Linked DNA regions of Homo sapiens: region 1 is linked to region 2. The links come from fine-mapping of genetic effects on gene expression. A gene starts in region 2. The other region holds a variant in brackets. All regions are shown on one strand. Distances are from middle to middle. Region 1 overlaps LINC-PINT (long intergenic non-protein coding RNA, p53 induced transcript). Region 2 holds the start of LINC-PINT (long intergenic non-protein coding RNA, p53 induced transcript).

Region 1 (4,394 bases), 160 kb after region 2:
ACACTATTATACAAAGATACACTTTCCAGCCAGTAAAGACATAGCCATTAATCATAGAGCCCCATAAGAGGATCTTTTAGCTTTGTTGCTAGAAGAAAGTTGCATCTTGTAAAACATCCAACTTAGTCATTTAAAAAAATCTTTAAGTAGTGGTACTTGTTCCTGATCTTAATACAAATTAAATGTGGATACGCTTGCTTGATTTCTTCCCTGCCCTTTAGCATAAGAGCTTCTGAGAGAATTTCCTATTCTTCCCTTCTGTACTATTTATTTCTTGGGCTATAGACCCTCATACTCCCTCTTCTTTTCCTTATAAGAAGCAATTCACATTCTCTTTTCCCATCTCCTTTGTGGAAAAAATCTCCAAACCCTTGTTAATTATCCCTTTGTCATGTTCGTCAGGTCGGTCCTGAAAGTGTCAGCAGACACTGTGAAGATGGGAAAAGTAAGATGTTGACTAGTTCTTTAACTTTTGTGACACAAGTGGTGTCCGTTTGTGTCAGAAGAAAGCCTGAATTGATGTTTCCATCTCATGCTTCCCTCCTTTTACTTAGAAAGCAGTTTCTTTGTGAAAAATCCCTGGAGATCTTTCTCAGAGGTATTCCACAGTTAGGGCCAATTACTGCAACATGATGGAAGCTTTAGGTTCTTCTCAGGCCTAGCCTCATTTCTAGCACAATACTAGGAGGCTAAAATCTATCTCTAAAATTTGCAAAGTAATAGTGATGGATGTTAGCTATTTTTAATGTAGCTGCTTAGAGACAGTTGAAGATAGTAAGGGTCATAAGGGCCTTCTCCTATCTGACCTCTGTACCCCTGTAAGTTGTTTACCAGCTTAGAGCCTCCTGTACAGTTCTAGATCAAAGAGCAAGTCCTCTGAGGCCATGCCCTTGGAAGCAGAGATGGAGAGTAGTGAAATCTACTTAGCTCTGAGGGTGTGAGCTCCCAGGCAAGCAGAACACACTTGGGATTTTATTCCTGGTATTGACCAGAACATCTATCATCAGCCTATGCCAAACACCCCCTTTCCACACCTTGTTTCTCCCACCTATTTCGCATAACTTCCTAGAGATGAAGAATGTTTCTGAGTGTGGATTGTCAGATGTCTGCTGAAAAATGGTGGGCCTAAAAAAAACATTCTGTGACTGCAAGAATGTAGAACACTCCCACACTGGTTCTGGGACCTGGCCTATTGGTTGGCTATTACTGTTGAATGAGAGGAGAACCAGCAAATTCTTTCTTTTCCTCTGGAGGAAATACCTTGTATGGATGGTCCCCCAGAGAAGAGAGAGCCATGGCTAGTTGTGAACTGAAGTAATCCAGATACAGGCACCATTTGATGGGATCTAAGTGTGCGAATCAAATTGCATTCTTCAGGAGGACATGGGGATGTCAAGACAATTAAGGAAATCCTACCATCCCTCCATTTTAATTGATGTAAAATTTACATGCATTGAAATGCACAGACATTCAGTGTACTCCTGTTCCCAGACCCCAGTTAAGAGAGAGAACGTTTCTATCACCAGGTTTCCTCTTGCCCCATTCAGTCATTCGCCACCCTCACTGGCAAAAACTTTCTGCTTTCTATCATTGCAGTCTTGTTCTTGAGCTTCCTCTAAATGGAATCATGCAGTATATACTCTTTTGCGTCTGGCTTTTTTTTTCACGCAACAGTTTTATATAGTTGTCTGTATCATTCTTCCTTTATTGCTGGGTGGTATTCCATTGTATGAATAGACCCAATTTTAAACTCTGTTCTCTTGTTGACTGACATATTGATTATTTCCCCATTTTTGGCTACTATGAATATTAAGCTGCTGTGAATGAGTTTTCTCTCACTCTCACTCTTTTTCTTTTCTTTCTTTTTTTATTTTTTATTTTGAGACAGTCCCACTGTGTCACCCAGGCTGAGCTGCAGTGGGGCAATCTCAGCTCACTGCAACCTCTACCTCCCAGGCTTAAGCGATTCTCCTGCCTCAGCCTTCTGAGTAGCTGGGACTACAGGCACGCACCACCACACCTGGCTAATTTTTAAAATTTTAGTAGAGATGGGCTTTCACCATGTTGGCCAGGCTAGTCTCAAACTCCTGACCTCAAATGATCCACCAGCCTCGGCCTCTCAAAGTGCTGGGATTACAGGCGTGAGCCACCACACCTGGCCCACTCTCACTCTTTTTTAGGTTTAATTGCTGCACCGTACACTAGGTGTATGTGTACCTCTGTAAGAAACTGCCA[A/G]GTCATTTTCCAAAGTAATCGTACCATTTTACACTCCAACAAGCAATTTATGAAAGTTCCAGGTGACCAGGTATCTTAACATTGTATATTGCTGGTTTTTCTACTTATAGTCGTTCTCTTGGATATGAAGTAGTATCTCATTGTAGTTTTCAATTTGCATTTTCTAGATGAATCACATATACTTATTGGCCATTTGTGTATCTTCCCTTTTGAAGTGTCTGTTCAAGTCGTTTGAGTCTGTTTTTCTTTTGCCTGTTTTAAAATTGGATTGTCTTATTATTTTGGTTGGTAGGAATGTTATACATATTCTGAATAAAATATTCTTGTCAGAAGTTTATAATGCAAATATTTTGCCAGTCTATGGTCTACCTGCTGTTTTTTAAAAGTGTCTTTTGATGAGCAGAAGGTTTTAACTTTGAAATAATTTCATTGATCAAAAATGTTTTTCCTTTGCGAGGCCAAGGCAGGGGAAGATCGCTTGAGCCCAGGAGTTTGAGAGCAGCTTAGGTAACATAGCAAGACCTCAACTCTCTACAAAAAAATAAAATATATTTTTAAAAATTAAAACAAAGATTTCTATATTATCTGTATTTTTTGTTTCCTAAGTAATCTGCCTCCCCAGGATTGTGCAGATATTTCTCTGTGCCTTCTGTTAGAAGACTTATAGCTTTAGCTTTTATGCTTTAGTTTATGATCTATCTCCAGTTGATTTTTATATATGGGGTTAAGTAGAAGTCAAGGTTCATATTTTTGCATACATTTTCCCAGTTGTTCTAACATGGATTGTTGGAAAGACTTTCCTTTTTCCATTGAATTGCTTTGGCGCCTTTCTTGAAAATCAGTTTTCCATATATGTGTGGGTCTATTTCAAAGGAACTTAAAGAATGTTTATATAGACCACATGCGGCATGTACTCAAGTCTAGGAAATAACAGTTCACATTGGTCAACCCTCAAGTGACTGGCATACTCTTTAACTTCTATATCGTGAAACATTTATGTCAAAGATCACTGATAGAAGCTGTATGTGGTGGGAGGCATTTTTTGCTTGTTTTTTGAAGCTAACCCTGCTGAAGCCTCCAGAAGTTCCAACATTCCCATGTTAAATGTGATGTTCTTATCTGCACAGAAATAGACCATAAAAAGTGAGATCTAGCCTGAGCCTGCAGGCGACTTCAAGAAGAACAAAATTAACTTCACTTTTCTTATCTGAAAACTTGGATATGTGTGGATTCAAAAATGAGTGATTTGGAACTTATTATAATGAAATGTGGGCCAGACAAAAAATAAATACTCTTAAGAAAGATGTTTTTCATAATGTAAAGATGCTTGTAAAGGAAAAAATTGTTTTAATAACAAGTATATTGTATGCAAAAGTAGATCTGATTTTAAAGAAGCCTTGTCTATGAGTAGAATCTCTACTTGGAAAGGTTTTTGTAAACGGTTTGGTTGAGCATATTTATTTGAATATAGAACTTTCTTTCTTTTAAAAGATTCCTTGATTTGGAAACCAAAGGCTGAATAGAGTAGGAAATGCACCCAAATTATTCTGTTAGAAAGGTACAGTAAATGGTGATGCTCTCTTTTGATACCCTAAATTTTAGGACTTTGAATTTGGTGCTTTCATGGTGTGGTGGTATAGGGAAGTGATTAGCGCGGGACTCTGAGGCTGGGCTGCCTGGATTGGAATACCAGCTCTGCCACTGAACACCGGCGAAGGAATCGACGTTCTTGTCTCTCTCCCTAAATGGGGAGAATAAGAGTACGTGCCTCATGGTTTGGGTTAAAGTATACAAAAGGCTTAGAGCTGTGCCTGGTTCATAGTGAGCACTATGTAACTGCTGGCTGGTAATAATATATTAACTTTATAATAAAGGAACACCAAAAAAGGAATGAGTAAAGGAAAAACATATAAAGCAAAAGTGCATTCCACTCTGCTGTGATTCAGCTGTCTCACTCTTCATAATAGACTCCCCATTTGGCTGAATCGGTCACGTTTTGTTATTTAATTCCCATTCTCTCAAAAGGATATAGAATTAAAGTGTTTTCTTTTGAGCTCCTTGGGAAATGCATGCTCTGAAAATACCCGGGGATGCTTCATATTCATTACCAGAATTATTTGTCTCTACAAAAGGACTTTGCAAGGAAACGCATTTCAAGT
Region 2 (4,394 bases):
TAAATGATTTCCCCAGCTTCGACATGTATTTATTTATTTATTTATTTATTTATTTATGCGTTTCATTTTAGAAGTATACTTAAATCTACTCTTTACTCGAGTTTGTCTTAGTTCTAGTGCTGAGGAATGAAGATTCTGGGTAAAAGAAATCAAGATGATGTTTTTTTTTTCTAGGCTTTACATTTCAAGGATTGTTTCTCAAATGGCAACTGGCAGTCTACTCCTCAAATGATGACGTTTTCCACAGGAATTACAATTTAATTGGAATATTTTGTTTTCAATGGGAAGCAAAGATTTCTTTCCAAGAGGATCAGTTTGATAATGTTTTACCAGCTAGTGCTACGAGACCAAATATAAACCAGTTCTGAGAAACAGGAAGTGAACTGACTGGTCTAGTCTGAGTGTCCCTGGCAGTGACGCAAATACAGAAATCAAATTAGGAAAACAAGATATGTGGGTGTGAGGCAATCGATAATAATCCAGGATGCTACAACATAAGCAAGAATGCCTTTAACCCGATGCCATTCATTTTAATAACACCCTGAGCAGTTTGATTTCCACGGAACACGCTGGTGATTAGAGAGCAGCAGGAGCTTGGGTTCCCTAGCAACAGCATGTGCTTTTGAGACAGTCATTAGCCTTTCAGTTAATCCCATCAACCCCTTACCTCTAAATGTATGACTGACATAAAAAAAATGATGTTTTAGAAAGTGCTTTGAAATTTCCAGGAGTGCAATGGAAGGGAATAATCATAATTAAAAAGTTGTCTGGAGAACTACACTCCAGTGAAGGAAGTAATGTTCCTACGTGCCAAGCCTGTCCGTATATTTCCCTGCTCTCAGTTGTAGGTTTCTGAATCCCCTGTGGCAAAGGGCAAGGGAGGTGAAATTGTTCAGAGTTTCAGGCAGTCTTCTCACCTAAAGTGAGTAGTATTGCAATGTCTCTTGGAATCATGGCTCTGAAGATGAGGAGAGAAGCGGGATGGGCAGTTTGTGTGGTGAGGAGGCTGGCTGCAGGTAGGCTGGGAGGGAATGTCACACATAGTTTTCTTTCTCCTTTAAGCCGAATGAGGTATGCTGGTCAAAGGAACTTGGGGAAGGAGGATGGTGAGGGGAATGAAGTTCTTCTTCCTATTGATTGTTTTGTTGCACCAGAGGCTGTTTGTCCAAGGCCACTGGCCAAGAGCATTATTTTCGTGGCTAAAGTGAGGTTGGGCAGGTTTCCCATCCCTTTCACTAGTTTTGAACAAGACAACCCAGAAAGCGCAGCAAGGCTCTGGGAATATGATGTGGGTTGGCTTTTCCTACTCAGCTGCACCTTAAAGCGCCAGGCCGATGGGCTGATACTTCTCAAACCCTGAATCATTGCCTCCAGCTCTGTCCTGGGTTCAGGATGCACCACTCCACCCTCTGTGTAGCTTGGGGTCAACTTCGGGGCGTCACTCCAATAGTAATTATTGCTGCGTTTGGCTGGACATCCTTATTACGGCCTGGGTCCCTCTCAGCTGGAAACTGGGCTCCTTCAGTTTGGCTGGGGTGACTTCTAGCACTTCCCGCCGCCCCACCTTACCCCCCTGCGCGCTCCCTTCCCAAGGCGACCACCTGCACCGCCCCACTTACCATCTGCCCCGCGGGGAGGGCCCCCCGGGCTAGCGGAGCCCTCCCTGCTCCCGGGCGGCTCTGGAGGAGCTCGGTGTTTGCCTCTAGCCCTTCGCTACCGGAGGATCAGGTTCCTCCCCTCCTCCCCCTCCAGCTCCGGCCGCCGCCGCCGCCGCCGCCGCCTCCTTCTTGCATGACACAGCAGAACCGCAGCTGCTGCAGCAATTTCAAGCCATCCGCCCAGGAAGCGCCGCAACCGGGACTCGGGAGGGGTGGAGGGGGCGAGGCAGAGGCCGCGGCCCCAGGGGATCCTTGGCCCCACTGTGCACCACACACTCCTTTCCCAGCCCAGGGGCACGCGAACAAAATGAGGCTCAAGCTGACCAGGCCGAGCCGGAGGAACGCTGGGGCTTGGCAGCAGAAGGGATGGGACCAGAGAGAAGGGTGTGGAGGAGACCCCAGTGAGGGCCAGGACATTTCAGGTAAAGAGAGGTAAGAAGAGGCCCAGAAGTCAAGGGCCAGACTGTGAAGGTGATTAGAGGTCAAAAGAGGTAAGGAGGTAGAGTTGCAAAGAAGAGAGGCCGAGCTGGGAAGGGCGTGGGGGTGGGGGTAGCTGCAGGGGAGGGTGGGGGGTACAGTCTTTGGGGAGGCCCGAGCTGAGCCCCCAGGCAGAAAAGGGGCTGAGTTGGGAGGCAAGGGAGGTAGGAGGAAAGGGATGAAAAGAATTAGGCATGAGATAGGAAGGTAAAACTTGGGAGAGATATTATAGAATTAGAAGGGTTGGAATGGAGCTCATTCATCATGGCTGATGAAGTAAACTGATGAGGTGGAGAGAGACAGAGTCAAGGCAAGGCCAAACGAAAAGATCTTCCATCCCACTCTTCAGTTTCTTGCGAAGTTTTTCTTGATTCCGCCAATCCACACAGTTTCCTTTATAAAATGGAAAAGCATGAACTAAAAAACCCAGAAATAGCTATCTGGCTTAGATTTACAGGATAAAATCTCCATGTCTGTAAAAACTTTAAGGCAGAAATTTGGGATTTATGGTACAAACCCTTTAAGGGACTGTGAGTCAGTAATACCCACAGCACTCAACATTGTGAGTTTCCACACATCCCTGGACTTGAGTGAGTCTTTCCAAGTGTTTGTTAATGGTACAAATGATGACAAAATTAGTGGTTCAAAAATATTAAAGTGCACATGCTTTTTGCTTTCTCTATGTATACAGAGATTACATATATGTATACTTTCTAGCGTCTAGCAAGTATGGTATGGCTAGGGATAATTATGTTTTTCTGATTATTTTGTTTCCCATCAAACACCCCACGAATTTTACAGCAGACCGCCTTCTTGTCACCATTTGAAAGAATGTGGTCAGAAAAGTAATGCAAAAACTGCCACTTTGGTTTTGTCTGTACCTTCCAGGTCATATCTCCGTACCTCACTTCCTGACACAAACAAGTTTTCACTGTTGTCAGCAACAAAGCCCTAATATAGCTGCGGAAGAGAAAAACTGCATTGCATTTTGCCTCCTGCAAGCATCATCAACAGTTACTGGAGGAACGTAATTCCAGAAAGCTTGAAAGCCGTGGTGATGGTAATTATGTATCAAATGCCTGGTTCTATTTCTGTTATTATTGTTTTGTCATTTCTGTTTTCCCAGCGATCTGACTGAACTCGCAGAGGGACAAATCCAGTTTTTCTTTTTGACTTTTGTCAAACTAAATCAGGCCTGATAGAAAACTCATTGCTCTCCGGGGAAACAAAGTAGGAGCCACGAAATGTCATTTTAACAGAGCGTGGGTTTGGTGACTGTAGGAAAGGATTTGAGGACGCTCCTTCTGTTCGGCTTCCTATGTCATGAGCACAGGCTCCACGCACGCACAGACACCACGGCTCCCGGATGCTGTGGCTCCCCGATCGGGGCTCCTGCAGCGCCAGAAGCCCCTCCGGGATGCTTCGAGGGGCTCCCGGTGGGTGGAGGTACGGACGCCGCTGCGGCCGCCGCCGCCAGTCCTGCTGCTGTTGTTGCTGCTGCAGTCACGTGGGAGCCCCTTTAAGTTTCCATAGAGAGGCCTCTCTGGTGTCACATGATGGACATGATATAATGAAACAACATTGTGGAGAGGAAAGCATTAGGGGAGCCCACGGCTACAAAAACAAGTGAGTGAGAAGAGGTGGGAGGAAGAGAAACTACGCCACCTCCCCTGCAGCCGAGTGCACGCAGCAGCCTGGCGTGACAAGTGGGCGACGCCGGGGGGCAGGGAGCCGGGGTCCTTGGCCCTGGCCGGGGACCCCACCGCCCACCGCGCGGAGGACAACTTTTAGCCGGCAGCCCAGACCAGCGCGGCACCTGTCTCCGGAGTCTCCACCGCTCCTCCCGATTCATCCCAGGGAAATTCTCAAGAATACGCTCTACAAATCTACGTGCGCATCATTTTCACCTCGCGTCGCGCCCGGGAGGAAGGAACGAGGCAAGGAGCTAAAGCAGCGTGCGTTCAGCCCTGGGGTAAGTTCGTCGGGTGGGGAAGCCGGTCCCGCAGGACTTTGGGATGGGAATTTTGCTCTCCTTTGCGATCTCAGGGCGTGAAGAAGGCGTCCCCTCCGCTGCCGGCGGAGCTGATCGGCTGGCTAGTCAATTTCCCCTTAGCACGCCCCGTGCGCCCACCCTCGCTCAGCCCGGGGCCCCCTCGCCGTCCCCCGGAAGGGGTCTGCGGTTCCTGGCCAGGACGTTCGGAAGGCGAGCGGGGGAAGGTAGGGCTGTCGCGGGAACCCGGCTTGTGAGAGCGATTTCGC

The links. PIP is the estimated chance that this variant, and not a neighbour inherited with it, causes the effect.
Region 1: its variant is the best candidate, but not a certain one, in a credible set for the expression of LINC-PINT in blood mononuclear cells (TOPMed, PIP 0.68).

What each region holds. Positions count from the first base shown.
Region 1 is chr7:130,952,223-130,956,616 of GRCh38, reverse strand. The region is part of intron 5 of LINC-PINT (long intergenic non-protein coding RNA, p53 induced transcript); the gene reads left to right. Among named protein-coding and RNA genes, the nearest start is that of LINC00513, 41 kb to the right of the region's middle. The variant A/G (reference allele first, on the strand shown) is at 2,236.
Region 2 is chr7:131,107,433-131,111,826 of GRCh38, reverse strand. It overlaps LINC-PINT (long intergenic non-protein coding RNA, p53 induced transcript), which reads left to right and starts at 1,902. Exons shown (of 8, transcript NR_170176.1): 1 at 1,902-2,090; 2 at 3,024-4,107. It also overlaps a transcript of MKLN1 not described here. RefSeq lists silencers at 337-396, 1,547-1,696, 1,777-1,826, 3,884-3,943, 3,964-4,013 and enhancers at 114-655, 3,050-3,901.